Linked DNA regions of Homo sapiens. The protein of the gene in region 2 interacts with the protein of the main gene of each other region in a biochemical or structural test. Each region holds a gene or a part of one and is shown on either strand. Other genes may lie near its edges.

Region 1 (4,413 bases), on a different chromosome or scaffold from region 2:
GACCACTTGGAAACTTGTATTAATCAATTTATTCTTCATCAATATTTATTTACTTGTTTGTTTTAGCTAACAATGAAATAGAGCATTCTACTCCCAAGATACTATGCTAAAAGTGCTTGTTCATCTCCTCATTCTAGCACTCTAGAGAGGAGAAGAGAGACTTTGGCAATTACTGTCTCCATCTATAAAATCAGACTTGATAATCCCCTCTCAGTCCCTTCGGATTAACTAGGATATTACACAGGGTAGCGTTTTGAAAGGTCTCTTCCTCCCACTCCAACTTCATCTCATACCATTTACTCTTGCTTCCTATACAACAGCCATAATTTTTTTTAGTTCCTCTATGTTGAGGTAAACCAGCATTATCCAACTGAAAGATACGGTTAGCCTTAAAGAAAAGCCACATATGTAATCTCAAATTTTCTAGTAGCCATATTTTAAAGTTTGTAAAGAGGTGAAATTAATTTTAAAATACATTTAACCCAATATATTCAAAATATTAACAATTCAACATATAACCAATATAAAAAGTTAATGAGTTATTTTACATTATTTTTTCAGTATTGTCTTCAAACTCTGGTATGTATTTTATTTACACTTACAGTGCATCTCTATGTGAATCAGTCAGTGTGCTCAACAGCCACACTGGCTAAGTAGCTACCATATTGAGCAGCACATCTCTAAACTTTTACCTACTCTCAGGGCCTTTGTGCATTTAAAATGTTCCCTCTGCCTGACATGCTTTTTCCCCCTCAGTGTTCTGCATGACTAAAATCTATTTATCATGCACATCTCAGTTTAAAAGCATCATTTCCTCAATGAGGTCTTTTCCTTATCACTCCAAAATTCTCTACATTAGTCCTTTATCTCTTTTGTAGGACTTATCAAAATCTGCAACTGTCCACTTGTATATCTACTTACTTTTCTCTGTATTACCCTCTGGAATGTAATCTTTGTAAGAGCAAGGACAAGGACCATGTCTGTATTATTTATGAGTGTATCCTTAGTACTAAGTACAATGCTTGGCACACAGGAAGAAATCAATAAATATGTGTAGTCTAATTAAGGAATAAATAGAAGCACTATAGAGCTGTACAGATGCTCCTTGACTTATGATTAGGTTACGACCTGATAAACCCAACTTACACTGAAATACTTTAAGTCAAAAATGCATTTAATACACCTAACATACCAAACATCGTAGCTCAGCCTACCCAACCTTAAACATACTCAGAACACTTACGTTCACCTACAGTTATGCAAAATCATCTAACACAGAGTCTATTTTTTAATAAAGTGATGAATATCTCATGTAATTTATTCAATACTGCACTGAAAGTGATTGGATGGGTATTCCAAGTATGGTTTCTACTGAATGCATATTGCTTTTACACCATCATAAAGTCGAAAAATCATTAAGTTGAACCCCTGTAAGTCAGGGACCAGCTGTATTGGATTGGTACATACATGAAAGAGTGTGTGTGTGTGTGTGTGTGTGTCTGTGTGTGTGTCTGTGTGTGTGTGAAGAATATACTCAGCAGCCATTCCTAACTGTCCTGGAACCTTTACCACATAGTCAACTAAGTCAATTATCCGGCAAGTGGCAATGGATAGTAAAAAAACGATTTTTTGAAAGAGTTAGAGGGAACTATAAATATATTTTACCATTCTCCTAGGAACCTACAATTTTTTAAAAAGTGCCACTGGTCAGGGCAGCACCCAAATGATCAGGAACAGGTGACCAGATTTGGAGACAGAAAATATGAATTAAAGATTCCAGTTTGTAACTTCCCAGCTACATAATCATGCCACTTAACTTCTGTTCATTTATAAAAATATGATGGCTAAAGAACAGAATTAAGTTAAATGAGACTCTATATAAAAGGGTTTTGAAAACAGTAAAGCACAAAAATTATATATATAATCCTATATATAATCTCTAGAAAGTCCAGGAAACTTGGACTTTTCAAGTCTATCACAATGGGCTTTCTCATTTTGCTCACCTGGTTCTTTATTTTTTTTTAAGTTACTTTACAAATTACATATGTAATTTATTAAATTAAGCAAAATCTATCCTGGATACCAAAAAAATCTCAGACTCTGGACTGGTGAGATAATTCCATATGAGAAAATAAGTGGGAGGGAATGTTATAAAATAGTAATTCTTGGCCGGGCAAAGTGGCTCATGCCTGTAATTCCAGCACGTTGGGAGGCTGAGGCGGGCAGTTCACTTGAGTCCAGCCTGGGCAACACGGCAAAACCCTGTCTCTACAAAAAATACAAAAATTAGCTGGGCTTAGTAGCATGCCCCTGTGGTCCCAGCTACTCGGAGACTAAAGTGAGACGATTGCTTGAGCCCGGGAGGGCAGCACTGCAGTGAGCTATGATGGAGCTACTGTACTCCAACCTGGATGACAGAGCAAGACCCTGTCTCAAAAAAATAAATAAATAAAATATTAATAGTAATTCTCTAACAGGTAATTGGAGAACCAAGAGCCCCTCCAACTATACCAAGTCCCTCTTTACCCATCCCCAAAACTGGCAATTTACATTTTGTTCCTGTAGCCCATTGGGAACTATTTCCATAGTGAAATACTGTTACTGATGGACTACATCCCAGTGTATCACAGAGAAAGGGTGAGGGCAGGGAGTAGGTGAGAAGGTTAAGAATCACTGTCGAAATATTCAAGCAAAGAAGTTGGCATCAAATTCAACACATTTATATGACAGCTAAGGAAAACTGAGTCTCAGGACGGTTAAGTGACTTGCTGTGGTTACACAGTAATAATTTTTAAAAATGTCTTCAAGGCCGGGCGAGGTGGCTCACGCCTGTAATCCCAGCACTTTGGGAGGCAGAAGCGGGCAGATCACAAGGTCAGGAGATTGAGACCATCCTGGCTAACACGGTGAAACCCTGTCTCTACTAAAAATACAAAAAATTAGCCGGGCATGGTGGCACGCACCTGTGGTCCCAGCTACTTGGGAGGCTGAGGCAGGGGAATGGCGTGAACCCGGGAGGCAGAGCTTGCGGTGAGCCGACATCGCATCACTGCACTCCAGCCTGGGCGACAGAGCAAGACTCCATCTCAAAAAAAAAAAAAAGTCTTCAAATGACAGCTTGATGTCTCTGCTCCTAAATTTCCTCATCTGTAAAATGAGTTAGCCAACATCAGTCTAGCACATTACAGCTTCCAAATTGTTGTGCATATATCCACAGAGCTTACCTGATTCCCTACCACACCGCAAAAGTCTAAGACGGCTATGGTGTAATAGAAAAAGCATGATGAACTAAACAATCATAAGAACCTGGCTTCAGATCTTAGCTGTGCTGTATAGCCTCAGCAAGTCAATTAACCTCTTTGTGTTTTCTTCTATCAAATGAATATAAAACAACACCTGTCCTAGCTAACCCAGGGGATTGTCCAAAGAATAAAGTCAGATAATATCAGTAAAAGTATTTTGTACATTATACAAAAGGCCCTTCATCATCTGGGCCCTGCCTCCTCTCTGCTCTCACGCCTCCCCACTTTACACCCTATCTTCTAAGCATACTAAACTACACAGGGCTCCCCAAACAGGCTCTCAAATCTTCTGCTCACATATTGCTCTCTCTTTCAAGAGGGTCCATCATCTCCCCTTTCTTCTCACCCCTCCCTGACTGTGCTTCGTTAACCCCTGATCATTTTTCAGAACCCATCTTAGATGTCACCTCCTTTAAGAATGCTTGCCAGGCCACCCCCATTTCAAGTGCAGCAGATGCCCTTCCTCTGTGTTCACATGGCACTTGCACTTATCTCCATATTTTTGTCATTTTTTGTCTCAATGTAGTGTAATTGTCTATGCACATGTCTGTTTCTCCCGGAAACTATAAACCCAAGGGTAGAGGCTATGATTCATCTGTTTATTCAGAACCTATGACAATGCCTGATGCATAATATGTATTTAGCAAATGAATGAACTTTAAATGGCAATAAAATATTACTTTTCATATAATACTTACATAAGACATTTATGCAAAACATTGTTAATATAAGGCAGTGCTTCTCAACTTTGCATATCAGAATCACCTATAAACCTTTCAAAATAGAGATGCCAAGGCAACTCTTTACATCTTCACAAGTAATTCAAGTGCATAGCCGAAATTAAAACCACTGCTACACACAATCATAGTCATAAAATTACAAACTACTCTACCTAACATCTATATAGCTCAGTATCTTACAATTCACTTTTACATATATTATTAATCTTCACAAGAATTCTGTAAGTTAGGTATTATTTCTTTCAAATGAACAAATAGAGATTTAAATAAGTGTCCAAGTAGCTCTTTGTCTAACTTCAAATTTTGTGCTCTTCCTTAAACCCTCCCTTGGTAAGTGCAGTAATACACAAATCAAGGGTTCCACCAGTGAG
Region 2 (4,413 bases):
AGTTAGTACGTTAACTAAGTTCATCACTTGTAAGCATAATGATGGATAGACATGGAGTGAGAACAGGGTCAGTACTGGGGTGTAGGTGGAAGCTTTGCTCTTGACAGATGTTATCATTACTTTTCTTTTTTTATTTTTAAATTAGAAATGGGTTCTCACTATGTTGCCCAGGCTGGAATCGAACTCCTGGGCTCAGGTGATCTTTCCACATAGCTGGAACTATGGGTGCAAGCCACTGTGTCTGGCTTTACTTTTCTTCATTGCCTAAACAATAATTTAAGTTATATGTTAACACATAATCTTCAAACTGGTCTTATGGTATTCTGAATACTAAACATCAGTTGTTAACAGACCAGGAACTTTATCTGATTCTTTGCACCATCTCCCAGCATCTAGACTAGTGTCTGGCACCCATGAATATTAGGTACCCAGAAATGTTAACATGAATTAATTTTCCAAAAGTGGTTAAATTAGTATATCTGAAGATTAACTTACTGTAGTGAGATTTTAATCATGATCTAGCTTAAGACGAGTTTTGAAGGCAAGAACTGTCTTTTTTTAGGAGTTTTTGTATATCGTTTGGTATTTATTTATTTATTTTTGAGACGGAGTCTTGCTCTGTTGCCCAGGCTGGAGTGCAGTGGCGCAATCTTTGCTCACTGCAGCCTCTGCCTCCTAGGTTCAAGCAATTCTCCTGCCTAGCCTCCCGAGTAGCTTGCTGGGATTACAGGCATGCCCCACTATGCCCAGTTAATTTTTGTATTTTTTTGTAGAGACAGGGTTTCACCATGTTGGCCAGGCTGGTCTTGAACTCCTGACCTCAAGTGATCCACCCACCTTGGCCTCCCAAAGTGCTGGGATTACAGAAATGAGCCACTGCGGCCAGACCATTGCTTGATGTTTAATAGCAGTAGTTGGCATTTAGCAAGCAGTCATTGATAATATTGACCAATTTTATGTAATGTGAGCCTTCTAATAATTAGTGTAGTTACAAAATAATTGGAGCCATGCTCAAACTGTCAAATATTGAGAAAACTGAATTCCTGGTATTTGAAAGTGTCTAATTATTTGCGTTAATTGGTAAGCCCCTCCTGATTTTCTACTTAACCATGACACTTCTTCCGTGGCGCCCATCTTCATTCTCTTGAACATTGATACTGGAAGATTCCCAGGGTGGTCCTAGGCCTTCTCTCATTCTGTCTTGTCGATCCCCACCCCAGTCTTATTAATGCCCTTAGATCAGTTATGGACCATTTACAAATGATTGCAGAGTTTATTGTCCTAACCATGATCTCTCCTAAAGTCCAGACCTACACCTGGCTACATGACTTCTGCGCAGTCAGATGTCTAAAACCAAATTAAAGATCTTCCCTAAACCTTCTCCTAACATGTTCCCTGCTCATTAAATGGCAGAACCAGAACCCAGGAGTCACCCTTGACACCTCCTCCTCTCACCTCGTCAGATTCAGACCATCCTTAGGTGCTGGCAGTTTGACCTGTTATCACACCCCTAGCCAGGTGCCCATTGTCTCTCATTTCCACTAACTTAGTGGCCTCCTTGCCTGATCCCTGTGTCCTTTCTCCTTTGCTGTCCGTTCCAATCTGTATTAGGTGGCCAGAGTGATCATTTCCAAATGTAAATCTGATCATAACTTCCTCCCTCCAGAAAAGTAAATGTAATTTAATTTTAAGATGTTCAGATGGCTTCCATTTGGATAAAGACCAGGAAATCTTTAACATGCCTGACCGAGTCCCTGCCCGGTTGGGCCCCTGTCTGCTTCTCCAGGCCCATCTCAGCTCACACTTGCCCTTGTTCCGTGGCAGGGTTGCGTGCTTTCATTTCCTCAGACTCACTCACTGCCTTCTTCTATAGGGCCCTCACATGCTCCCTCTGCCAGGAACACTGTTTTTCCATAAAGTCAGCTCCTCGTTGTTAAAATCTTAACTCATTGACACTTCCTCAGGGAAGCTTTCCCTCATCCACCCAGACTGGCTTTGTAGCAGGGTGTCCCTACTGTCAGTGTTGTGCTTTTACATTTGTTACCTCATTTGATGAATGACTGCCTTCCCCCTAGCACCTAGCAGGATGCCTGGCATAGGGTAGACACTGCATAAATATTTATTGAATAAATGAATGAGAGGGATAATGGCATGGCATGTTCAAATTAGTGGATCCACTGTTTTTCCTGTTTAGTCAGACGTAGTTTAGGACATAGCTGAAAAGGTGTTAAATGGCAAAAGTCTAGACTATGGTGTTTCAACACTGTAGATTTGTGATAGACTCATTCAGAGGTACCTGGACTTGTAGACGTGCCTGGTGGCTCGAGTGAAATAGGACAGCTTAATGTAGTAGAGAGCAAATAGCTATACTGCATGACAACTTTATAGGTAAGAAGAGTCTGCTATGTGTATATAATTATTCTGTACTTAATAGGGAGTTAAGAGTGCGTGTGTGTATATATATGCATTTATATATTCACACATACATCTGTGAATAAATATACACATAAAGGTGTCATGCATTAATATAATTATTCTTATTTTTAAAGTTCTCAGAATGTCATCTAAACTTAAGATATCATTTTTAGAATTCTTATCTGATAACCCTACTTCATCCAAAATTCATTAATTTGATCATAATTCAACTTGGGATAAATAAAAGTTCACATTTCCATTGAAGAAAATATTTGTTAGGCAAGTACTCCATGAGATTGCAGAAGCCAAGAACCCATGTAACAAAACATTTCAAAGTTTACTGTTGGTAAGTAAACCCAGCAGCCTCTCTTATCTAGAACATGGGTTAGCACTAAGAAGTAAGAAAAAATACTCTAAGCAGCCAAAGGACCTGTAACAAAATATGTGCTTTGAAGCACTTTGATTTTACACTTAGTAGAGTTCCCAGGGCATTTGCTCAGGATTGATACTTATTTCAGATGTTGTTCATGCAGTGTTGTTCATGTGGTGTTCCTAACATGCAGCAATTAGAAGCAGCCAGTTAGAAGGGGTGGCGGTGTGAGTCCTGCAAGAGGCAGGTTCCCCAAAGGCAGCAGTGTTGGCACACCTGACAGTGAGAGGAGAGAGGGAGAATAGGACTCAAAACATTGCAGTCGGGGGCCACCTAGCATTGGTACAATTAGTTCCATCTAGGGCAGCCTCTGCCATTTAAAAATATACTCAGTGAAGTGAAGTTGGAAAGCTTGTAATATAGATTAAGGAAAATTACTATCCAAGATAGTTATAGAAAGTGTCTTGATCTTTGAAGTGGTAAACCTCTAACTGTTCTGTAAGATGTATTTCTGTAGCCTTGATGATACTGAATAAATATGTACTTTAGAATTACATAAAAATGGATGCTGCTTACCGAATGTCTTATCTATTATCTGTGTGGAGAAATCTTTTTTGTTATTGTTGACCTGAGTCATTTTATACCTTGCAGTTTCTTTAAAATGCATAATAATCACCACTACCACTAATATACTGATCTTTTCCGGTTTTTTAAAAAAAATTTTTATTTTTTTTTTTGAGACGGAGTCTTAAAGATATTTTTCTTGCTCCAAGGGTCTAGATTCTTCTTTTTTTGTTGTTGTTGAGATGGAGTTTCGCTCTTGTTGCCCAGGCTGGAGTGCAATGGCACAATCTTGGTTCACCACAACCTCCGCCTCCCAGGTTCAGGCAATTCTCCTGCCTCAGCCTCTTGAGTAGCTGGGATTACAGGCGCCTGCCACCACTTCCAACTTTTTAAATTTTTGTATTTTTAGTAGAGACAGGGTTTCACCATGTTGGCCAGGCTGGTCTTGAACTCCTGACCTCAGGTAATCCACCCGCCTCAGCTTCCCAAAGTGCTGAGATTACAGGTGTGAGCCACCATGCCCGGCCAGGTCTAGATTCTTAAATAACCAAATTTCAAGTTTTGTACAAAGATTGAAGGAAAGCTAGTCTTTAACCAGGAAGAAAAGGATTTGTTAAGAGATTATCAGCCGTATCTTTGCTGACTCATTGATACTGTGGTGCCTAAGACATCTTGGCTTTTGTGACAGAATCCTGCATACAACTTTCTCCAGGATAGTTCCTCCAGGAGGGACCCCTCTGCCAGGCACTGTGGCAGTCACATGTCCAGGCTGCATCTCTGCCCTGCTCAGCCTCTTCATCCTTGCATTCAGATCTCCATGTGGTTTAGGGTGCCCATCAGGGTAAACACTGCCATTGTCTCTTTAATTGCTGTGCTCTTACTCTTCTGGCTTTCACACCTTCAGCTTCCAATCAGTCACCAGTTCTTGTTATTGCCACTCTCCTAGTAGCCTGAGAATCCATCCAACTTCCTCCACTGCCATGACTGCTAACCCAGGGTCAGGCCACTGTCAACCCACTGTCAACCTTTTCTTCACCCTCAGAATGAAGTCCAGACTCCATAAT
Region 3 (3,500 bases), about 120 Mb from region 2:
TAATTAAACAAAAACTTAAAAATTGCTTTGAGTTGGAAACTAGAACTGAAGGAGCCTACAGCAGTCCTCGGTACTCTTCCTGGTGTCCACGGATGGCATACCCATCTCTCTCTCTCTCTCTCTGTTCCCTGTTCATCAGAGCAGCAGATACACCAACACCACTCTCAAGAGTCAGTAAAAGCTCCAAATCTATAGCCCAGATGCTACATACACTTCACAGAACTTAGGTGGTCCTTACTGTTAGAGACTGTGAAAAGTGGAATCGTCTCTCTACTCGAGAATCATTAGGTAATTTGAAGATGATCTTGACACTTTCAGGGTCATCAGGGGAAGGTTCAGGGGGCAGGCATTCCAACTTCCTTTCCTTTTCCTCCTGTAAATTCTGCAGAGACACAAAGCAAAGGTGAGGCTACAGCTCAAGAAATAAATACAATGACCATGTAGCTTTATTACGCAGTCGTCAGAAGAAAAATTAATGACTAAGTATTCTAAGAAAAACCTCTCAGGAATAGTCAAAAACAACCTAAATTTAAAGTACAATTGCATCTCATGTATTCTTTATTATGTCTAGGTATTTATTTGAGAAAAAGGAGAAAGGGAGCAGGGTGCCATGGTATGTGCCTGTAGTTCCAGCTACTTCAGAGGCCACAGCAGGACTTCTTAAGCCCAAGAGTTTCAGGGTGTAGTGCTCCATGATTGCACTGGTGAATAGCCACTGCACGCCAGCCTGGGCAACACAGTGAGACCCTGTCTCTTAAAAAAAAAAAAGAAATAAAAGGAAATGACTAAAAGACACTGGTTATAGGTAAGCGGTAATACATAATCAAATAAGATAATGTATATCTCAGTCTGATTGCTAGGGAACAAAAACAACAACAAAACAAAACAAAACAAAAACAAAAAGATAATGAGTAAAATGCCAAATCAGCTAATACTGGTATTAAGAATGAATATTTAGGGCCAGGCATGGTGGCTCACGCCTGTAATCCCAACACTTTGGAAGGCCAAGACAGGCAGATCATGTGAGGTCAGGAGTTCGAGAGCAGCCTGGCCAATATGGCAAAGCCCGTCTCTTTTTTTAAATTTTTATTTAAAAAAGAATGAATATTTAAATGGTATGAAAAATTTAAATCACCCCTAATTCCAACATGTTGTAATTTTTTCTTTCCTTTTTCCTTTTTTTTTTTCCCTCTTAGTCTGTTTAAGGTGGCTATCATTTTTTCCTTTCACACTTAAGACCAAGATGGCAAAGTCTCGGCAGTTTGGGAACCACAGGGAGTAAAGCCACACGTCCATTACCTGCCGCCGTCTCTCCTCTGCCAACTTTTGCTGTTGCACCTCCTCCTCCTTCCGCCGCTTACGCTCCCGCTCCTCCCGTTTCTTTCTTTCTTTCTCCTGGTCAGCTCTGAGAGAGGCCAGGTAGGCCTCATCCTGCTGTTGTCTCAGCACTTGGGTCTGGTTTCTTTCTTCCCTGTGAATAGATCAAAAGCAAGAGAAGAAAAACAGCACTCTCACAAAGTTCTGTGTTTTCTTATATTGAAATCTTCTGTGTGTGTGTGTGTGTAAAAATGTTGATATTCTTAGCAGATGACGATTTCACACTGCCATAAGGGATTCCAAAAGCAGAGCGTGGCAGAATCTGAATAAGCCACCTTTTTTCTCAGTTTAATTTGGCAGAAAAGGAAACAGCAAGCTTTCCTCTCCTCTTTTAAAATAAAACTTTTCCCCTAATTCTAACAAATGTGACACAGTACTGTTATTATGAAGGGATCATCAATATCATATTTTACAAGTAAATACCATTTTGGGTGACTGCATTTTTGTACTGATCTCATAAAACCAAAACACACACATATATATCCATACACACATTGTAGCAGATCTGAAAATGTAGAGTTTTCAGAGTCATTCAGAGAATCACTAATCAAAGATAAAACATTATAACATTTGGCATATCTCCTATTTTCTCTCCAACAAATTTCTGTTTTCTCTTAGCCAAAATATTTAGCCAATCAAAATAGTTGAACAGATTTTATCTTTAAAAATTAAGATAAAATTTACATGCAGTGAAATGCACAGATCTTAAATGTACAATTCAATGAATTTTGATAAATGTAACCATGTAATCACCACTCCAATCAAGACAGAACATTTCAGTTACCTCGGAAAGTTTCCTGTTCTATACATTTTTTTACACAGTTAAAATAACGCTATTATTTACAGGATTTTGATCTTGCATTTTTCTTTTTTTTTGGAGACAGGGCTAGCCTGTCACCCAGGCTAGAGTGCAGTGGTGCGATCATGACTCACTGCAGCCTCAACCTCCTAGGCTAAAGCAATCCTGCCACCTCAGCTTACAGGCGTGTGCCACCACGCCTAGCTAATTTTTGTATTTTTTGTAGAGATGGGGTTTCACCATGTTGCCCGGGCTGACCTCAAACTCCTGAGTTCAAGCAATCTTCTTACCTCAGCCTCCCGAAATGCTCGGATTACAGGTATGAGCCAACATGCTCGGCCTGATTCTGCATTTTTCTAATATGTAACAAGCATGTCCCCATGTTATTAAAAACTTTCCATAAAATTTAAGTTTGTTTAACTTTCTTGAGGGCAAGTTGGCATTACAAATCAAGAGCCTTAAAATATACTTATATTGATTGTCTCACCCAGAAACTGCACTTCCAGGAATTTAAATTTTAATCTAAGGAAACCATCACAAATTGCAAAAAATTATCTCCCTATATGCTAATTATAATAGTAACAAACCGAAAATAATCTAAAAATCCAACGAGAGTGGCCTGGTTAAATTATGATGTATTTAGATAATGGAATGTTATGCAGTAATTTTTAAAATGTGGCAGAATATTTAATGATGAGGGAAAAGGCCGTGATATATTCTTACATAAAGAAGGGTTGTAAAAAAGTATTATCCCAATTTTACAAATAAATGTGTACGTATATAGGGGTGTGTGTTGTGTATAAAATTAAAAAAATTTATAACAATGTTCAAGTGGTGGTAGGTTTATCAGTGATCTTAAATTTCTTCCTTGTGCTTTTTTGTGGTTTTAGGATTTCCTATAATTAATGTACATAACTTATGTAATGGAGAGGAATTATAACCATTCCACTTTTTTTTTTACATCGAAGTTCTTTATATTATATTCAGCTATTCTAAATGCCACAATATACATTCTTGAGCACAGAGGCCTGTCTTTGTTTATTCATTCATTTATTATTTTTTAAAGACAGAGTCCTGCTCTGTCATCCAGGCTGGAGTGCAGAGGCACAATCAGAGCTCACTGCTGCCTCGAACTCCTGGCCTCAAGCAATCCTCCTGCCTCGGGCTCCCAAGGACCTGGGACTACAGGCATGTACCACCATGCCTAGCTAATTTTTTCTTATTTTTTGTAGAGATGGGGTCTCGCTTTGCTGCCCAGTCTGGATTCAAGTAATCCTCCTGCCTCAGCCTCCTAACGTGCTAGGATTTCAGGTGTTAGCCACTG
Region 4 (4,413 bases), on a different chromosome or scaffold from region 2:
GAAAGGCCAGCCAATCAATATGCAATATTTAAGTCTTTTCATTGAGGCAAGTGTTGATTTTGAGAGCAGAGAGATGATGATGTTTTGAGCTGAGTTACCAAGGTTGGAGCTTACTAAACTCACAAGGGCAGTTTCAGGAAAGGAAAATACCATCTGCAAAGGTATATGGCTCATTCAGGGGCTCTCTGAATTGTGGCTGGAGCAAAAGGTTTGAAATCTTTTTTCTTCCCAAGAAGATGAAAGAGCTCCTGGAGGACAGAAACTGCTTTTTATTCCCTTTGTATCTCTCACAGCACCTGATACTTAAGACTAAACTATTCTTTCACTCATATGCCCATTATCAATGTCAGCATTGTAAGGCCCTGATGGCAGGATCCATATTTTAGGGAGCTTTGTGTTACACATAGTGAATAAATTATATGGTCATGTATCACCTAACAATGTTTTGGTTAATCACAGACTGCATATGTGATGGTGGTCTCAAGATTATAATGGAGCTAAAAAATTCCTATTGCCTGTGGACGTCGTAGCCATCCTAATATTGTGATGCAATGCATTACTCAAATGTTCTTGGTGATGCTGGTGTAAACAAACCTACTGTGCTGCTCATAGTATAAAAGTATAGCACTTACAATTATGTACAGTAATACTTGATAATTATGTTACTGGTTTATGCATTTATTATACTATACTATACTTTTTAATCATTTTAGAGTATACTCCTTCTACTTATTAAAAAAAGTTAGCTGTAAAACAGCCTCAGGCAGGCCCTTCAGCAGGTATTCCAGAAGGCATTGTTATCAAAGGAGATGACAGCTCCGTGCATGTTACTGCCCCTGAAGACCTTCCAGTGGGACAAGAGGTGGAGGCGGAAGACAGTGATGGTGGTGATCCTGACGCTGTTTAGGCCTAGGCTAATGTGTGTGTTATGTCTTAGTTTTTAAGAAAAAAGTTTAGAAAGTAAAAAAGTAAATAAATCTTAAAAATAGAAAAAAGCTTATAAAATATTTCTGTACAGCTGTATAATGTGTGTTTTAAGGTAAGTGTTGTTACAAAAAGAGTCAAAAAGTTAAAAGTAAAAAGTTTATAAAGTTAAAAATCTATAGTAAAGATTAATTTATCATTGAAGAAATATATTTTTTATAAATTTCGTATAGCCTAAATGTACAGTGTTCATAAAGTCTGTACACTACTGTACAAGTGCTATACAGTAATGTCCTAGGCCAAGCTTGTTCAACTCACGGCCCACGGGCTGCATGCAGCCCAGGATTGCTTTAATGTGGCCCAACACAAATTCATAAACCTTCTTAAAACATGAGATTTTTTTGCAATTTTTTTAGCTCATCAGATATTGTTAGTGTTAGTGTTAGTATATATGTGGCCCAAGAAAGACAGTTCTTCCAGTGTGGCCCAGGGAAGCCAAAAGATTGTACACTCCTGTCCTAGGCCTTCATATCCACTCACCACTACTCACTCACTGACTCACCTAGAGCAACTTCCAGGCCCGCATGCTCCATTTATGGTAAGTGCCCTATACAGGTGTACCATTTTTAATCTTGTATACCGTATTTACACAGTACCTTCTCTGTGTTCAGATACATTTAGATACACAGATACCTACCATTGTGTTACAGTAGCCTACAGTGTTCCATACAGTAACATGCTATATATGTTTGTAGCCTAGAAGCAATAGACTATGCCATATAGCCTAGGTATGTAGTAGTAGGCTAAACCATCTAGGTTTGTATAAGTACACTATGATATTTACACAGCAATGAAATCACCTAACAATGAGTTTCTCAGACCGTATCTCTGTCTTTAATGCAATAACTATATCGGTTAAATTTGTTTATTTAAGTCCAATATGATTAAAATGGGCTAAATTGTTTCCAGAAAGATTTGACTATTTCCACTTTTGCCTATGTTTTCTTTATCACAAAATGTATCTTTTATCTAGTCTTTCTTTATGAAATGTAGCCCTCTTAATACTTTTTCCCTAATATATTTGCTATCCCTAAAAGATAATATTAATTTTAGTCTGATTTTGCACATGAGTCATATTGTGCTTTATACTGTGGGCATATAGATGTTTAATAATGCTTTTTAAAGCAACAAAAAGTATAAAGCATAATGACAGAGAATATAATTGTTTCAGCTCAGTTTTCACATTGCAGGGTGAAGCAGCTGACCGATGAGGAGGAGTGTTGTATCTGTATGGATGGGCGGGCTGACCTCATCCTGCCTTGTGCTCACAGCTTTTGTCAGAAGTGTATTGATAAATGGTAAGTTACCTACTGCATTCATGGGCTGGGCCAAGGTCAGTGGGATAGTGTACATGAATAAACTTTGAAAAGTGCAAAAATACTGTAGTTAAGTATGAGAGAGATTTTATTCTTTAGTACTTTGAATTTTATGGCATGCCTTCTACTGGTTAAAACTATTTTTGTTTTTACACCTAACATTTATTAAATATGGGGGTGTACCTTAGTTTTGACACTTTTCTTTTGCTGTATGAAAATTTGTGCCTGACTTAAGTCTAAAATCAAACATTTCCCTTTTTCCTCCTTTTTTTCTCCTCATTTCTACATTTATTCTGTGTATGTGTTTAGAAGGAATAAATTCTTGAATACTGGACCTCAGGGAACTTTAGAGATCAGCTAGTCAAGTTCATTATTTTACAAAATAAGACTTGAGCGTTTAGGATAATTTATAAAATACATACAATAAACTACATGTATTTAATGTACAGTTTAATATGTTTTGGCATATATACACACCCATAAAAGTTATGAATTTTTATAAATGGAATCATATAATATGTGCTTTTTTTGTCTGGCTTCTTTCATTCAGTCTAATTACCTTGGTATTTATTCATGTTGTAGCATGTATCAATAGTTCATGCCTTTTTATTGCTGAGTAATGTCTGTTATGTGGATACCATAGCTTGTTTATTCACCTATTGAGGGAAATTAGATTATTTTCCATATTTATCTATTACAAAATAAAGGTACTAGATACATTCATGGACAAGTCATTTTATGGATGTATTTTGGTTTTTTTCTTGGGTGAATACCTAGACATGGAATGGCTAGATCATATGGTATGTGTGTGTTTAACTTTTTAAAAAGCTGCCAGCTATTTTCCAAAGCAGTCTTGTGCCATTTTACACCCCCACTAGCAGCATATGAGATTGCATTGAATAAATATATCAATTTAGGGAGAGTGAATTTCTTACTAGTGCATCTTCCTATCCACATACGCTGTATATTTCTCCACTTATTTAGGTCTTCTTTAATTTCTGTCACCAATTTTTTTAGTTTTCAGTGTTGCATATCTTTGACATCTATCCCCAAGTATTTCATAGTTTTATGCTATTTTAAATGGTATTTAAAATTTCAATTTATGATTGATACTAGTATATGGAAATACAATAGATATTTGTATATCAACCTTGTATCCTGCGCCCTTATTAAACTCATGTATCAGTTCTGGTAGTATTTTTGTAGATTCCATAGGCTCTTCTTGAATGTCCGAATATCATTTTTCAAAGACTTTTTTTCTGATTCAGAATTCTAGACTTGAGAGTATTTTTTCTTTCAGTATGTTAATAATGTTGCTTCACACTCATCTTGTTTGCATTGTTTCTAATGAGAACTCTGTCATCCTTTTTTCCTCTGTAGGTAATGTGCCATTTTTTCCCTCTGTTTTTAAGGTTGTTTTCTTTTCACTGGTTTTGAGCACTTTGATTATGATGTGCCTTAGAGTAGTTTTTTCATGTTTCTTGTGCTTGGGGTTTATTGAGCTTCTTGGATTTGTTGATTTACGGTGTCATCAAATTTGGAAATTTTTCAGCCATTATTTTTTCAGATTTTTTTCTATCTTCTCTCCCCTCTCCTGTGATTCCAATTACCATGTATTAGCCCACTTGAAGTTGTCTCACAGCTCACTGGTGCTATTTTTTTCTTTCTTTTTTGAGTCTTTCTCTGGGTTTCATCCTGGATAGTTACTATTGCTATCTCTTTTCATATTCACCATTTTTCTTCAATGTCTAACTTGCCATTAATTCTATCCAGTGTATTTTTTTAACCTCAGATAATTTTCATTTCTAGAAGTTTGATTTGGGTTTTTATTATCTTTCATGTCTCTTCTTACTATCTTTGAGCTTTCCTCTAGTTTTTTAACTATATAGAATATAGCTATAATAACTTTCCATTTTATCTGCTAATTCTAATATCTGTGTTAGTTCTGGGTGGTTATGATTGATTTTTCTCTTTATTATAGATTATATTTTTCTGCTGCTTTTTTGTATGTCTGGTAGTTCTCAACTGGATGCCAGACTTTGTGGCAGACTTTGTGAATTTTACCTTTTTGGGTATTGGATATTTTTGTATTCCTATGAATATTCTTGAGCTT
Region 5 (4,413 bases), on a different chromosome or scaffold from region 2:
GAGAAAAGAGGCAAGCAAAATAAAAAGCTTAGCAGGCAGGGATGGTGAAAAAATATAAAACACAAGAAAAAGAACAAAGCTGGGAATAAAGGAAAGAACAGGTAAAATAGATTGTTACACGGAATAAAAATTGTAATATAAATACAGTTCATTTGTCACTAAGGTAAATTCTCAAATTTTCAGTTAACAAAGTATTTCAAATGTATACATTATTTAAAAAATTTAAAATATGGTTTACTTCATGGCAACTTTTAAAATGAGATACAAAGTAAACTGGAAAAATTACTAAAATGTTTTCTGGAGGGTAATTCAATATAATATGCCCATCTAAATTAGTTACTGAAGTACCAAAGGGAATGCATTATAAGGCCCTTTAACCTATAGCAACGTGACGTATCACCACAGAACTGCATAGCATATTTCATAGTATGCACTCAGTATACTGTTAAGATACTAATGGAAAATGTTATATAAAAAGATCTTACTATTTTCTCACATCAATATACAGACTGGCTTTAAGCACAAAATCTTTAAAATACCTTTTCAAAAGATCAACAATTCCTCTTTCAAAATTTTAATATCCTAAATGAACCTATTAAGTGTGCTAACACCCACACAGTAAAACCTGGAGAATATGTTAAAACCAATCTTAGTGACACTTTGGACTAGCATCCTTGTGACTGTTTTCCACTTGTTGTCTTCAAATGTCATTATAAACTCTAAAATATGTTAAGTTCTTTTTGAAAGGCCATATTTCAAAGGCTTCAAAAGGAAGCATCATATAGCTGTTCAAATGTTCAAAATTATTCCTTGCAAATGTTACTACTATTAGAATTTGCCAGGCTTAAGGCATTTTAACTGCAGAGGTAGGAGAAAAAAGACACTGACAACACAGAGGCATTTTAGTCCAGGGAGGCAACAGCACCTTATAGATAATACTATATGGAAAGCAAAATGTGTATCCCATACAATTGAAGTGTACTTTCAGGTACGTAATCTCTTTACGAAAACTTTCCACAAAGATGATAGTTAATGTGATGCTCTGTGGGTAGAATAAGTCACTTATTTAACATAAGCACTTGGGACTACCAATTATAAAAAACCATCAACTAGCAAGATTATTCCTGAAAAGCAAATCAGAAAAGCAACTCTTAACTAGCTTCCGTACCACTAGCTGTCTCCATTTCACACTGGCAGCTTTCGGGTCAATTACATAACAATTTTCAAAAGTTAAAAACCACAGAATATATAATTTTTATGAATAATGAGAATAGCTATTATTTAACGTAAACAGCTATTATTTAACTTATCTTCAAGGTATGAAAAACTTAAGGCATAATTAAAATTGCCTTAAAATAATCTATATGTATAAAAATATCCAAATAATTCGGAAAGAAAAGAAACAGCTTGCAATGAGGAGAAATGTCCCCATCTTTGCTCTGGGAAGCAAGTAAAGATAACTTTATGAAATCTTCTGATGTCCAAAAAAATCCGTTTTTGCAATACCAAAGCAAAACATTAAGGCATCTGAAACTGAAGCATATCATTATTTCTAAATAAGAGTTCTAAAGCTCAAAAGAGATTATTATCAAGCAGAAGTTAACCAGAACATTTTTAAAAGTTTAAGAGATGCATTTTTTTTTGCAAAAATGTAGTATCTTCTAAGTAGTTAAAATAAATGATATGGAAATAAAAAATAGTGAGGCTCAGTAATTAAGCTTAAGCTGGAAAAGAATACATGTTATGAAAATTTTAAGTAATTTTTTCTTCAAAATATTCAATAGATTCATTAAAACAAAGGAACAAGAAAAAAACTTCAGGAAATAAAAATATATCTTACAAGAATGTTCCACTTGGCAACTAGACTCTGCAGGACTCCCAGAAATACTAGCAGTTTCCTCAGTTGTCTTTCCTCTTAACCATGAAACCAAGCAGTATGATCCAGAGTGGTCACAACAAGCACTTTCTAAAATATCACACAAGGTATGACAAAGGAGTTCCTTCTGCTCTTCCTCTAAAAATAACCAAAGCATAAGTTATAATGGTTTCCTCTGGAAAAAAAAAAATTCTGTCATGAATAACAATAGTAAGAATGGGTTAATGATGAAAATCAAGCATTTTAAAAATGGGGGAAAAATCTCTAAATAGATTTTAAATTATGTCTTAGAAAAACAATGTGTTTGTGGATTAAAATATCACCACTTTAAATAAAGCCATCCAAATAACACCACCAAGTAGAAAAAGAATACTGAAAAATGCAGAACTAAACATTATGAAAGATCATAATGTGACACTGATCATCACTTTCTTAAAACTTTAGCAACTGCAGCATTTAAGCCAAGAGGTTTCCTCTACTGAAGAACTGAGCACAATGTAAAGGCCTGTTGAAACCTCTATTTTTTTTCCCTCACATCTGAATTAATCTAACGTCTATGATCACCCCGTCCCAAAGGGATAAGAATAATGAGATGAGAGACCGTCAGCACATATGTTACCAAAGTCCATTACATCAGCAGAAGCCAGTGGTTAGAATACAGATTTGAGCATTAGAATTTTATAGAAAATGGCGCAAATGCTCAGACCATCTCTTTATGAACCTTAGCCACACTCTTTTCAAGCAGTATTACTCTCAAGAAGTAGTATTACTTTCTGAAACTTTCAAAAATTTTATGATACAAGGAGGTTTCTGTCTCTCCTAATGGATTAACAGTTCTTTAACTGCAGGAACTATGCTGTTCACTTTCTAATCACCACAGTATTTATGACACTTATGACAATGCTTTACAAATGTTTTATCAAAGTGAATATAGTGAATATAGTATAAGAAATAGTATAAATTTTATTAAAAGTTCATTTCAAAAATAGTATCTCAAATAGTTTCTTCTCTACTAAAATTTGTTTTGTATTTCACCTATTAATTTAAAACTTATGGAAGTGATCCCTTAACTCTTAAATTCAAAATCATTAGTAGATTCTATAGTCATGGTTTGGAATGTAAGCTGTTACATCCTTAGATACAAAACTGGGATTGTAATGTGTCCTAACTTCTTCCAGAATTTACTGTGAGGTTCACAGGAAATTGTGTAAGTGAAGGAAAGATCTTTGTAAACTGTCACGTGGAATGCAAATTCTTGTTATTATAAGGTGGCACCACACATCTCTCTGGGTACAGAAGCTCATGTTACAGAAGCTATGACAGCTTCATTTGCAATTTCATCCAAAATTATTTGCAGTATTTGCATTGTGTAAGGCATTATACTAAAACATGCAGGAATATAATGATAATTCTGAGGTCTTGCCCACAGCTAAATAAGACTACAAAAAAAAAAAAAAAAAAAAGACTGTTCTTTATGGCATGCTGCCACCTAACAGTTCTAGGAAATGCACCGTGTTTTACCAAGAGGCCAAACGTTTTTCCCTTAGTTATACCATCATGTCTTATAACCCCTGGTTAGAAAGCCAAATTTGGAAATATGGAGTCACTGTTCATGAAACTTTCTAAAACATTTTAAAAGGAAACCTCAGGAAAAAAAATTCCCACTGATACTTGACTTTCTCAGATAATTTTAGATCATCTCTATTAAAACAGAGGAGGAAGCAAAAGTTTTAAAAGACAGCTATCATACCTGAACAATCCCGCCAAGAAGACTTCTCCGAAGAAAACAGGAGCTTCTTCAAAAGAAATGCCTTTACACAATTAAAGCAATAATTAGTGAAATGCATTATAACCATACATCATATCATTCTTCAATTTTAAAGTGGGAAAAAATAATGTGTACTCCCTTTCTAATCTTTTGACTAGTTCTGTAAAGATGTCAAATGGGTTCCCCTCACATTTGACAGGAACTGTGCAGTTATTTATTCAGAGTATACTGCTATAAACTTGATTCTAGATTCATAAAATTCTTCTTCTTCCACAATACATATTTTCTGACAAGTAGAAGAACTAACTCACATAACAGAATAACTGAAAAGCACACAAACTTACTGCTCTATTCACAAAGTGAAAGCCCTGTAGAACACGAACAAGTCTACATTTCATTTAGATTCCTTCAGGTAAAAGAAATCTAAATATAAAAGTGGTTCTGTTCCCTTAGTCTTCATCTGTGACACAAGATTAACACTATTAGAGTCATCACTTTATTATCAGGAGCTCAAGTTTAACTCAAAAAGGTACAAGATTCAGAAGAAAAGACAAATGGATTTCTAAACTTCCCCTTAAGCGAGTCAACGATGTTACATTGGTTATTTGATAAAAAGCTGCACAGTGAAGTGTCTACTTCTCAAAGTGTAGTTCAACGGTAGCTATATCCCAGTCACCTGACTTGTTTAAATTGCAGTTTCTTGGGCTCCACCTATTCTCTCTGAATCTCTAGAGGGCAGGTCCAAGAAAAAACAGGTTACAATGACGAC
Region 6 (4,413 bases), on a different chromosome or scaffold from region 2:
TGAGACAAGGGAAGAAGGGGGAATAAGAAAATGACACAGAAAAGGCAAATAGCAGTGAATCACAGAATGCCTACTAAGTAATAATAAATGCAGACTAGCTCTAACCCAAGACTATTCTTCCAAGGTCAGAGTAATTTTGTATTTAAAAACCAAAACCAAAAACAAAAACCCAAACAAAGGCATCACGGGCAAACTAATGTGGTCAGTTTAAGGATGGAGCTCATTTCAAAATGCCAAATATAGATTCACCTGCCAAACTTGAGAATTTGGCCTTAACTTTGTAAGATTAATACAATAAACAAACTTGACTGCTGTTAGCAAAAGCCAGCCTCCAAAGCAGACTGTATAACCACTGACAGTATTTTTTCACAACAGAAGTTTTATATTGCATTTAATCAGCACTCTGCCAAAAAAGAACAAATTGATAAAATAAGCTACGTGCACTATATAAAGCACAGAAATCTTTTTGTTCTAGGGCCTAGTACAGGTAATTCAAGTCAGTCTTCTTCCACCATCAGGGCACTTCTGGTTGTGCTATATAAGCAAAGTTTCCAAAGTCACCATATCTCATGAAAACCAAAATGCCTTTCCACACTGAGTTTCAAACTCCCACAAAATATGATAGGAATATTGTACTTCAAATAAGTTCTAGTGTTCAAATATGTTGTTCTACTTAAAAGTTTTCCACAACATTGACAATATCAAAACTAAAGTTACTGCTTTTGGTTATAAAATTATTCCTTATACCCTTGAAATTTAACTTCATCAAGTTTTTAACACATCCAATCTCCAGATTACAGACTTTGCCCATTATGCACAAGGGTAGTGCAGGGGATGAGCAGAGAAGAAACTGAGAATAAATATGACTATTTTACACTTCAAGATACTCATACTCAAGATACTTTTAAAGATAGTAGTTCTTTGCTTGGCCTATATTTTATGGCTCTCCCTCCTCTTTGGTCCTTCAATGGGAAGGAAAGAATCCCCCCACCAGCCATTTCTTGCACTATCAAATTCAGAACTGAACAAGTATTAAATGAAAAACATACCTGGCTCTGACACCTCTGTTTTCGGGGTAGTTATTTTGTCCTCTCTTGAAATGCTCATTTCTGTCATTTGCTGAGTTACAGGCAAGGCAGCCACAGGCACATTTCTATTTGAGTTCAAGCAAACAATTTTTAAAGGTGTTAAGGGTACTTCTTGAGACAATGAATAAGTTGTCAGTTCAACTTTAAATTATAGAATATTTCCAAAATGAGCAAATGGAGCTAGATAATCTAAAGTTTAAAAAAAAATTGGATGCCCAGCACAAATGGTTGAGAAAAAAGTTTGATAAATGGCTCATGAACTCGAGGCTGCATTTTGTATAGGTTACCATATTTTACAACCAGCTAGGGATTTTTAGCTGTGCCTGTAACTTGTTTAAGGGCAAAAGGGCAGCTCTGCCAAAACACCTTGTCTGGCCCAATAATATTCTACAGTCTCACTCGACAATCCCTAAACCTCAATTACAAAGAAATAAAAAAGCACAGCATTTCCAACACAGTATCCTTGAGGGGGTTAGGGAGTCAGGTGTAAGTAACACACATCTTTACTCAATGACTTAAGAGTCATGTATTAAAAGACACTGAAATCCTCGATTGCAAAGCCAAGGGTATCTATTAACTTATTATTGGACCAGTACAGACATCTTGATTTCTTCTTTGTAATATCATAAAAACTCTGAAACGTTCAATCTTACCTTGATTTTTCAGATGTGCTGCCAGCAGCACCTTCACAGTTGTTTAAGCTAGTGTCTGCTCTCTGTACAGATGCAGAATCTGAGGTAGGACTGTTGGAACCACTAGCTGTTCCTATTTAAAAAAAGGATTTGTAAGGAACCAATGAACACTACAAAAACTCACTTAGTATCAAGACGTAGTAATAAATACTTGCATTTAATTAGGTTAGTGATATAAGCATTCACTGTGCTGTAATCCTATACTTGAGTATCCAAACAAAAAATATTAAAAAGTCAATCCAATGAACACAAGTGTGAAACAAAATAACCCCAAAAAAGAAAACTGAAAAGCTATAAGATGCTTGTAGATAGTCATTCATTCCTGATCAGTCATGTCAAGCACTTGGGCTGTTGCTTGAATTTCAAGCTCTTATCAGGTGTTCTCTCCATGTGCTTTCAGCATTCTCAGCCCCAATTCTTGGTTCTGTATTTCTGTCCACCAGTTCTTTCAAATGTGTTTTTCCTTGGAAATAACTTACCCATTGGGCTCATTCTGCCACTATTTTGCTGCCTCTGAAGATGTTCTTTGTAGCAAACTGAACACATTCCATTTGTCCTAGGATTTCCATAAAAGCCACATCCTGTGCTACACAGCATGGGCCCCGGGGTCTGGTTAGTCTCCTGAGCCATATTTTTCTGCTATAGATGAAACGAAATTTCAGAAATTAGTGTTATCACCAAAATATAGTCTAATATAATCATCGGTATACCGTTGTAATTGCTACGCAAGTTTTAACAAAAGCCCAAATTCCGTTAATCATTAAAAAGGGTGGGCAGAGATAATTATCAATATTTTGTTGCCTTTATAAAAGCAAACTGTTTTAGGACCAAAAAAAAACCCAAAAAGAAATTTTATCAATTATTAGGGTATTTTTACCTATCACTATTCTTGGTTTCAATTTATGAAAAGGTCTGTTAGCTCTCAGGGTTATGTTTTAATCAATTTGGGAAACTGGTATCTTTAACTTTTCACTCTGCTGCACTACAGGCAGACCATTTCAAATGTTTTTACTTAATTGGCTAATCACAATTATCACTGAGTCTTGATATTTATAGGTAGTTCTTTAAACTGGATGAATAAAGTTTTCTTAAAACACCTGTACATATCTGGGCTTCATCAGTAATTTGACAAATCTGCTGAGGCAGAGCATCTGTACTTTTTAATGCTGAAACATCTTCATATAAGGCTGAAAAGAGAACTGGTAGCCCTTCCTGCTACCCTGGCACCAACAAGTAAATCTCTAAGAATTTAGGGTCAGCTGGTTTACGAAACTCCTTTTACGTTCTCCATTTGAAGTTTCAGAGTATGTCAAAGCCAGTGCCTAGGAACCTGCAATACACAAATTATGAACCAGATTTCTCAGCCAAAGGCACTATTAATTTTAACAAGTGCTTGTCTTCCTCATACCAGAAAATAATAAAACCGTTCCAAGCTCAAATTCAATGTATTAAAGTCAATATATACACATAACCTTTAGTAATGGTTAATATTCAATGCTGGGTTACCAGAAAAAGCTTTACATAGCAAGCATTTGTTTCCAAGGAAGATTTGCTTTTCTAAAAGTCTTGTTAAAACGCTGTGCTAAATTATTAATAAGTTTTCCTCTGGATGAGAAAATACATATTAAAGAAAAATTATTTTAAAATAAAGTTGTGGAGGGTTTTCATGTCATCTTAAACATGTATAAGCATATGTACAAAAAGCATATTTGAGAGCATTTGCTTAAAGGAAAATTCGTGTGCTGTAACTTGTGGTCAGTCATTTTTTCCAACTACATACTAGAATACACTTTTTAGTGAGTTATTAAAAAACGATGTTTTAACAAGTATTAACTACCAAAATTAGAAGATGGGAGAAGGGGACTAACCAATTTTGACCTGGCCAGACCCCTGGTAATTATTCCCCAAAACATTTTATCTTCCCTTTTGTAAGTAAAAGTGCACCATACAAATATTAAGACAATCTAGCTTGTGTGGAGTGACCAAGATCCACAACTTACTTTTAACAACAGTATTAATTTAGTTGACACTGTCTCTTTAAATATTAACTGGAATTTAGCTGACTCATTTTGGAGCAGGGTAGTGTAAACATTTCAACATCACTTAGGAAGTTTATTAATAAACACTTTCAGCTGGGTTTTTAAATGAGCATAATAGGAGCAAAAAATGCTTTCAAATGATAAATATGTATGTATTTGCATGCCCACCACGCACAAAATATGTGTGAATGTTTGCCCTATGCATGAAAGTTGGGTCACTCCTTAAAACCAGTTTAAGTATGCTAGCTTACATTTTCTACACTGAGGCCCAGTCTCATGTGACATTGGCTTTAAAGTTTAAGGCCAAGCGATCAACCTACCTAAGTAATTTTAGTTAATCTGATTCTTAAAATATTTGTTTTAGATAAAATGGAGGATACTCCATCTAAAGATTTCACACACTCAGAGATAACAAAGTATTCCAACTTTGCTTCAGAGAACATGTCTACCTTCATTTCATTATAAATAACTTTCAACTGCGAGACACACAAGAGGTACCAGGACATGAGTCTTCTACATGGGTTCCCATCTTTTAGATTTTTTTCCCCTAGAAAGCCAGCTTTTAAATGCCATCACATGTGCACAGCTTGCTTT
Region 7 (4,413 bases), on a different chromosome or scaffold from region 2:
CAAGCAGTACTCTCCCCACTTTATGGTAAAAGAGACGGAGGTTCCGAGAGGACCTGGGACTTCAGGGCCTGCGCAGGCAAGGAGTAGAGGCAGCATTCCAGCTCAGGGCCCTGACCCCACAGCCACACCCTTTTCCTGGGCCACTGCCTTCCCCTGGACAGGCGGCACTCCTGTGCCCAGTAGGTGATTTTGAGATTGAGCTGTGCCTTAGGCACTGGATACTACACTGATTAAAACTCAGCCCTCTGCCAGGCGAGGAGGCTCACACCTGTAATCCCAGCACTTTGGGAGGCTGAGGCAGGCGGAGCCCTTGAGCCCAGGAGTTCGAGACCAGTCTGGGCAACATAGGGAGACCTTGTCTCTGTTTTTTTTAAAAAAGTATTAAAAGAAGTAAAAAACAAAACACTCAGCTCTCCAGGGGTTCCCACAGGGCTGAACAGCCCCACCCCAGACAAGAATGCCGCTTGGTCATGGCGTCTGCCTGGCTTGGGCTGGAGAGGAGGCAGGTGGAGGTCCTGGGAGGGGGCATTGCTGGGCCTTGCAGTTGGAGGAGGAGCTGGTGGGGGTGGGGGGTCCCACGGTGGGAGAACACAGGCAGGAGCAGCTTGAGTGCAGGGGGCACCCCACAAGGCTCCCGCCCATGCCTACTCGATCTGGGGCAGCTGGACCCAGGAGCCAGGTTGGTTGTGCCCTTCGTGTGCCTGACCCTGGTGGGTTTGCCTGTCAGTTCTGCTGGCTTGGAGCAATCCTGGAGGTCAGAAGCATCATCTCACAGGCTGGATGGGATCCTGCTCACGGGAACCCAGTCCTGGGGAGCAGAGCTCACCCCCAGCCAGCCTCACCACACAGCCCACCACCGCTGCACCCACCCCCACCTCACGCCTGTGCTTCCTGCAGGGCCTGGGGATGGCTCCTGGGGGAGGACTGGGCTCCTGGCACATACTCTGTCCTGAGATGAGGAAACGTGTCTGTGGCACCAGCAGGAGCCAGAGAGGGTGTCAGGGCGGGCCAGGGAGAGCGCGTTGGTGGGTATCTGGGATGAGCCGTGATCAGCACTGGCCGGAGTCGGGGGGCTGGCACCAGTCCCCTGCAGGGTAGCTGCTGTCAGACCTGGCTTCCCACCACCCCAGGCTGCCTCACCATGTCCTGACTGTGGCGTCATGGGCCTCAGTGTCCTGCGGCAGCATCCCTGGCCGGTGGGCGGGGGAGGAGGAAGCCTCGGGTCCCAGCCCCTCTCTGATTGTCCGCCCAGCTCCATCGTCTACCTGGAGATTGACAACCGGCAGTGTGTGCAGGCCTCCTCGCAGTGCTTCCAGAGTGCCACCGACGTGGCCGCATTCCTGGGAGCGCTCGCCTCGCTGGGCAGCCTCAACATCCCCTACAAGATCGAGGCCGTGCAGAGTAAGTGTGGCCCCATCCCGGGAACAGGCTCTGCCTGCAGGGGGTGCCATCCCCCCGTGCCCCAGACACGCTGGCTGTTTGTGCCAGTTGCTACCCACGGGTGTGAGCGTTGCCGTCCGAGTTGGGGTAGGGCTTTTCTGGAATTTTCTGAATGGCACTCCGCCCCCACCTGCGGCGGTCACAGCTGCCGGTGGAGCCACCTGGGAACGAGTCCAGCCACGGGAAAGTGGGTGCCTGCTTCTCTCCCCACCCTTTCCTCCTGAATTTTCTTTGTTGGGTATTATTTCAAAATCATTACGGCTTTTTTTAAAGAAAAAAAAAGAGAGAGAGAGAAGAATTGATCGGTGTCATGTGAAGTGTTGAAGTTTGTATCTTGAAAATCCCTCTAAATCCTTTGTCTTAACAGCTCAGTGCGAGTGCAGCGATTTGAAGTTGACTAATCCTCCTTCCTTAAAGGAGAAAAAAGTAAAAGCCGTCTCCAGATAGAGTCGGCTGGTGCAGGAGAGAATTTAGCGATAGTTTGCAATTCTGATTAATCGCGTAGAAAATGACCTTATTTTGGAGGGCGGGATGGAGGAGAGTGGGTGAGGAGGCGCCCGGACGCGGAGCCAGTCCGCCGCCCCCCGGCCACCAGCCTGCTGCGTAGCCGCTGCCTGATGTCCGGGCACCTGCCCCTGGCCCCCGTGCCCGCAGGTGAGACCGTGGAGCCGCCCCCGCCGGCGCAGCTGCACTTCATGTACGTGGCGGCGGCCGCCTTTGTGCTTCTGTTCTTCGTGGGCTGCGGGGTGCTGCTGTCCCGCAAGCGCCGGCGGCAGCATGGCCAGCTCTGGTTCCCTGAGGGCTTCAAAGTGTCTGAGGCCAGCAAGAAGAAGCGGCGGGAGCCCCTCGGCGAGGACTCCGTGGGCCTCAAGTGAGCGGACGCCGCCCCTGCTTCTGGGTCCCCGGTGGGAGGTGGGACCTGGCCGAGCATCCTCACCGGGAGTCTGCCCCTCCCGACCCAGGGCCCACCTCCCACGCCAGGCCCGGGCCAGGGGTCTCTGGGGGCTTCCTAGGGAGCTCGCTCAGCCTCACTTCTCGACCCCTCACCCCCCAGGCCCCTGAAGAACGCTTCAGACGGTGCCCTCATGGACGACAACCAGAATGAGTGGGGGGACGAGGACCTGGAGACCAAGAAGTTCCGGGTGAGTCGCGAGGCTCCCGGGCTCCTGGGCTCCCGGGCACCTGCTGCCGGGCTGCCCTGACAGGCTCTGCTCACTCCCTCTATGTAGTTCGAGGAGCCCGTGGTTCTGCCTGACCTGGACGACCAGACAGACCACCGGCAGTGGACTCAGCAGCACCTGGATGCCGCTGACCTGCGCATGTCTGCCATGGCCCCCACACCGCCCCAGGGTGAGGTTGACGCCGACTGCATGGACGTCAATGTCCGCGGGCCTGGTAAGGGTGCCAGCAGCCAGGGCTTCCCTAGCCCCGTGGCCCACCTGCCTCTCTCCCCTAAGCCCCGAGGCTGGGGTACAGTTGATACTCTGGAAACTTAGAATTGGGGGTGAGAGCTTTCATCCTTGGGGTGTTTCCCATTCAGAGTAGACGTGGGGGGGTCCTGGAGTCCTCCTGTTCTTCCACCAACCCCTTCCTGGGGTGATACCGCAGGGCCACTCTGTCCCTGTAAATTACTCTTTTCTGAAACCTTCTTGAGACATGGAAAGCGTTGATTTTCTTTTTCTTTTTTTTTTTCTTTTTTTTTTGTTTTTGAGATGGAGTCTCGCTCCGTCACCCAGGCTGGAGTGCAGTGGCACGATCTCGGCTCCCTGCAACCTCCACCTCTCGGGTTCAAGCAATTCTCCTGCCTCAGCCTCCCCAGTAGCTGGGACTACAGGCGCCTGCCACCACACCTGGCTAATTTTTGTATTTTTAGCAGCGATGGGGTTTCACCATGTTGGCCAGGCTGGTCTCGAACTCCTGACCTCAGGTGATCCGCCCACCTCGGCCTCCCCCAGTGCTAGGATGACAGCGTGAGCCTCCGCATCCTGCTGAAGCATTAATTTTCTAACTGCATGCTTCTGGGGTCCTCTTTTTCCTGGGTGGATTTTGGGTGCCAGGTCTTGGGCAGGTCAGGAAGCAGTTGCCCGCCAGGAGTTTAAGCTGGATTCGGCTCTGTCCACTGAGCAGCCCAGGCGGACTTCAGCTGCCCCTTGGTGGCTGTGTGCACGGGGCCACCAAGTGCTGGGTGGTGCATCCACACCGTGGCCCCTTGAGCTTGGGGCTGCTGCCCCCCTCCCCCTGGGCTGCAGCTGGGGACCGGCCCTCCAGACTGAGCACCCGTCTCTGCCTCTGCAGATGGCTTCACCCCGCTCATGATCGCCTCCTGCAGCGGGGGCGGCCTGGAGACGGGCAACAGCGAGGAAGAGGAGGACGCGCCGGCCGTCATCTCCGACTTCATCTACCAGGGCGCCAGCCTGCACAACCAGACAGACCGCACGGGCGAGACCGCCTTGCACCTGGCCGCCCGCTACTCACGCTCTGATGCCGCCAAGCGCCTGCTGGAGGCCAGCGCAGATGCCAACATCCAGGACAACATGGGCCGCACCCCGCTGCATGCGGCTGTGTCTGCCGACGCACAAGGTGTCTTCCAGGTAGGCAGTGGCTGCCTGTGTGCCCACCTGCCCTCCTCAGGGCCGCCTGGTGGTCTGGGGCAGTGGCCAGGCTTACGTGGCCCTGGGAGCCTGACCCCGAGCACAGCTGAGTCCGGGACAACTGGTGCCTCCACCTGGGACCTTCGCAGTCAGCGAGGTGCGAGGGGGAGGGCGTCGGGCCCATCTGTGTTCTCCAGGGAAGTCAGGCAGAGGCGGGTCTGGCAGGAGGCCTGGGGGATCTGCTGAGTGAGGCAGCACCTCCCCACCCCCAGCAAAACAGGCTCCATCAGGGTTGTGGGCCTTGCTCAAGGTCCAGGTTCCACTGCTGCAGCCCCTCGCAGCCCCGCCCCTCCCTCAACCTTGGCTGCCGGCGTAGCCTGTG

Evidence for each region.
Region 1: of the proteins of MAP3K1 (region 2) and PAK1, one has a biochemical effect on the other in vitro, tested with the Homo sapiens proteins (one study listed by BioGRID).
Region 3: of the proteins of MAP3K1 (region 2) and FAF2, one has a biochemical effect on the other in vitro, tested with the Homo sapiens proteins (one large-scale study listed by BioGRID).
Region 4: of the proteins of MAP3K1 (region 2) and RNF141, one has a biochemical effect on the other in vitro, tested with the Homo sapiens proteins (one large-scale study listed by BioGRID).
Region 5: of the proteins of MAP3K1 (region 2) and MINDY3, one has a biochemical effect on the other in vitro, tested with the Homo sapiens proteins (one large-scale study listed by BioGRID).
Region 6: of the proteins of MAP3K1 (region 2) and ZFAND5, one has a biochemical effect on the other in vitro, tested with the Homo sapiens proteins (one large-scale study listed by BioGRID).
Region 7: of the proteins of MAP3K1 (region 2) and NOTCH1, one has a biochemical effect on the other in vitro, tested with the Homo sapiens proteins (one study listed by BioGRID).

The regions. Positions count from the first base shown.
Region 1 is NC_000011.10:77,463,515-77,467,927, forward strand, and holds part of PAK1 (serine/threonine-protein kinase PAK 1), read right to left. Parts: intron 1-4,413. UniProt on the Homo sapiens protein: Protein kinase involved in intracellular signaling pathways downstream of integrins and receptor-type kinases that plays an important role in cytoskeleton dynamics, in cell adhesion, migration, proliferation, apoptosis, mitosis, and in vesicle-mediated transport processes.
Region 2 is NC_000005.10:56,821,437-56,825,849, forward strand, and holds part of MAP3K1 (mitogen-activated protein kinase kinase kinase 1), read left to right. Parts: intron 1-4,413. UniProt on the Homo sapiens protein: Component of a protein kinase signal transduction cascade. Activates the ERK and JNK kinase pathways by phosphorylation of MAP2K1 and MAP2K4. May phosphorylate the MAPK8/JNK1 kinase.
Region 3 is NC_000005.10:176,496,885-176,500,384, reverse strand, and holds part of FAF2 (FAS-associated factor 2), read right to left. Parts: intron 1,472-3,500; coding exon 1,300-1,471; intron 383-1,299; coding exon 239-382; intron 1-238. UniProt on the Homo sapiens protein: Plays an important role in endoplasmic reticulum-associated degradation (ERAD) that mediates ubiquitin-dependent degradation of misfolded endoplasmic reticulum proteins.
Region 4 is NC_000011.10:10,516,903-10,521,315, reverse strand, and holds part of RNF141 (RING finger protein 141), read left to right. Parts: intron 1-2,174; coding exon 2,175-2,282; intron 2,283-4,413. UniProt on the Homo sapiens protein: May be involved in spermatogenesis.
Region 5 is NC_000010.11:15,839,586-15,843,998, forward strand, and holds part of MINDY3 (ubiquitin carboxyl-terminal hydrolase MINDY-3), read right to left. Parts: intron 3,688-4,413; coding exon 3,627-3,687; intron 2,015-3,626; coding exon 1,841-2,014; intron 1-1,840. UniProt on the Homo sapiens protein: Hydrolase that can remove 'Lys-48'-linked conjugated ubiquitin from proteins.
Region 6 is NC_000009.12:72,358,369-72,362,781, forward strand, and holds part of ZFAND5 (AN1-type zinc finger protein 5), read right to left. Parts: intron 2,420-4,413; 5' UTR 2,411-2,419; coding exon 2,260-2,410; intron 1,854-2,259; coding exon 1,742-1,853; intron 1,154-1,741; coding exon 1,050-1,153; intron 1-1,049. UniProt on the Homo sapiens protein: Involved in protein degradation via the ubiquitin-proteasome system. May act by anchoring ubiquitinated proteins to the proteasome. Plays a role in ubiquitin-mediated protein degradation during muscle atrophy.
Region 7 is NC_000009.12:136,500,170-136,504,582, reverse strand, and holds part of NOTCH1 (neurogenic locus notch homolog protein 1 preproprotein), read left to right. Parts: intron 1-1,252; coding exon 1,253-1,401; intron 1,402-2,094; coding exon 2,095-2,311; intron 2,312-2,494; coding exon 2,495-2,582; intron 2,583-2,669; coding exon 2,670-2,835; intron 2,836-3,735; coding exon 3,736-4,031; intron 4,032-4,413. UniProt on the Homo sapiens protein: Functions as a receptor for membrane-bound ligands Jagged-1 (JAG1), Jagged-2 (JAG2) and Delta-1 (DLL1) to regulate cell-fate determination.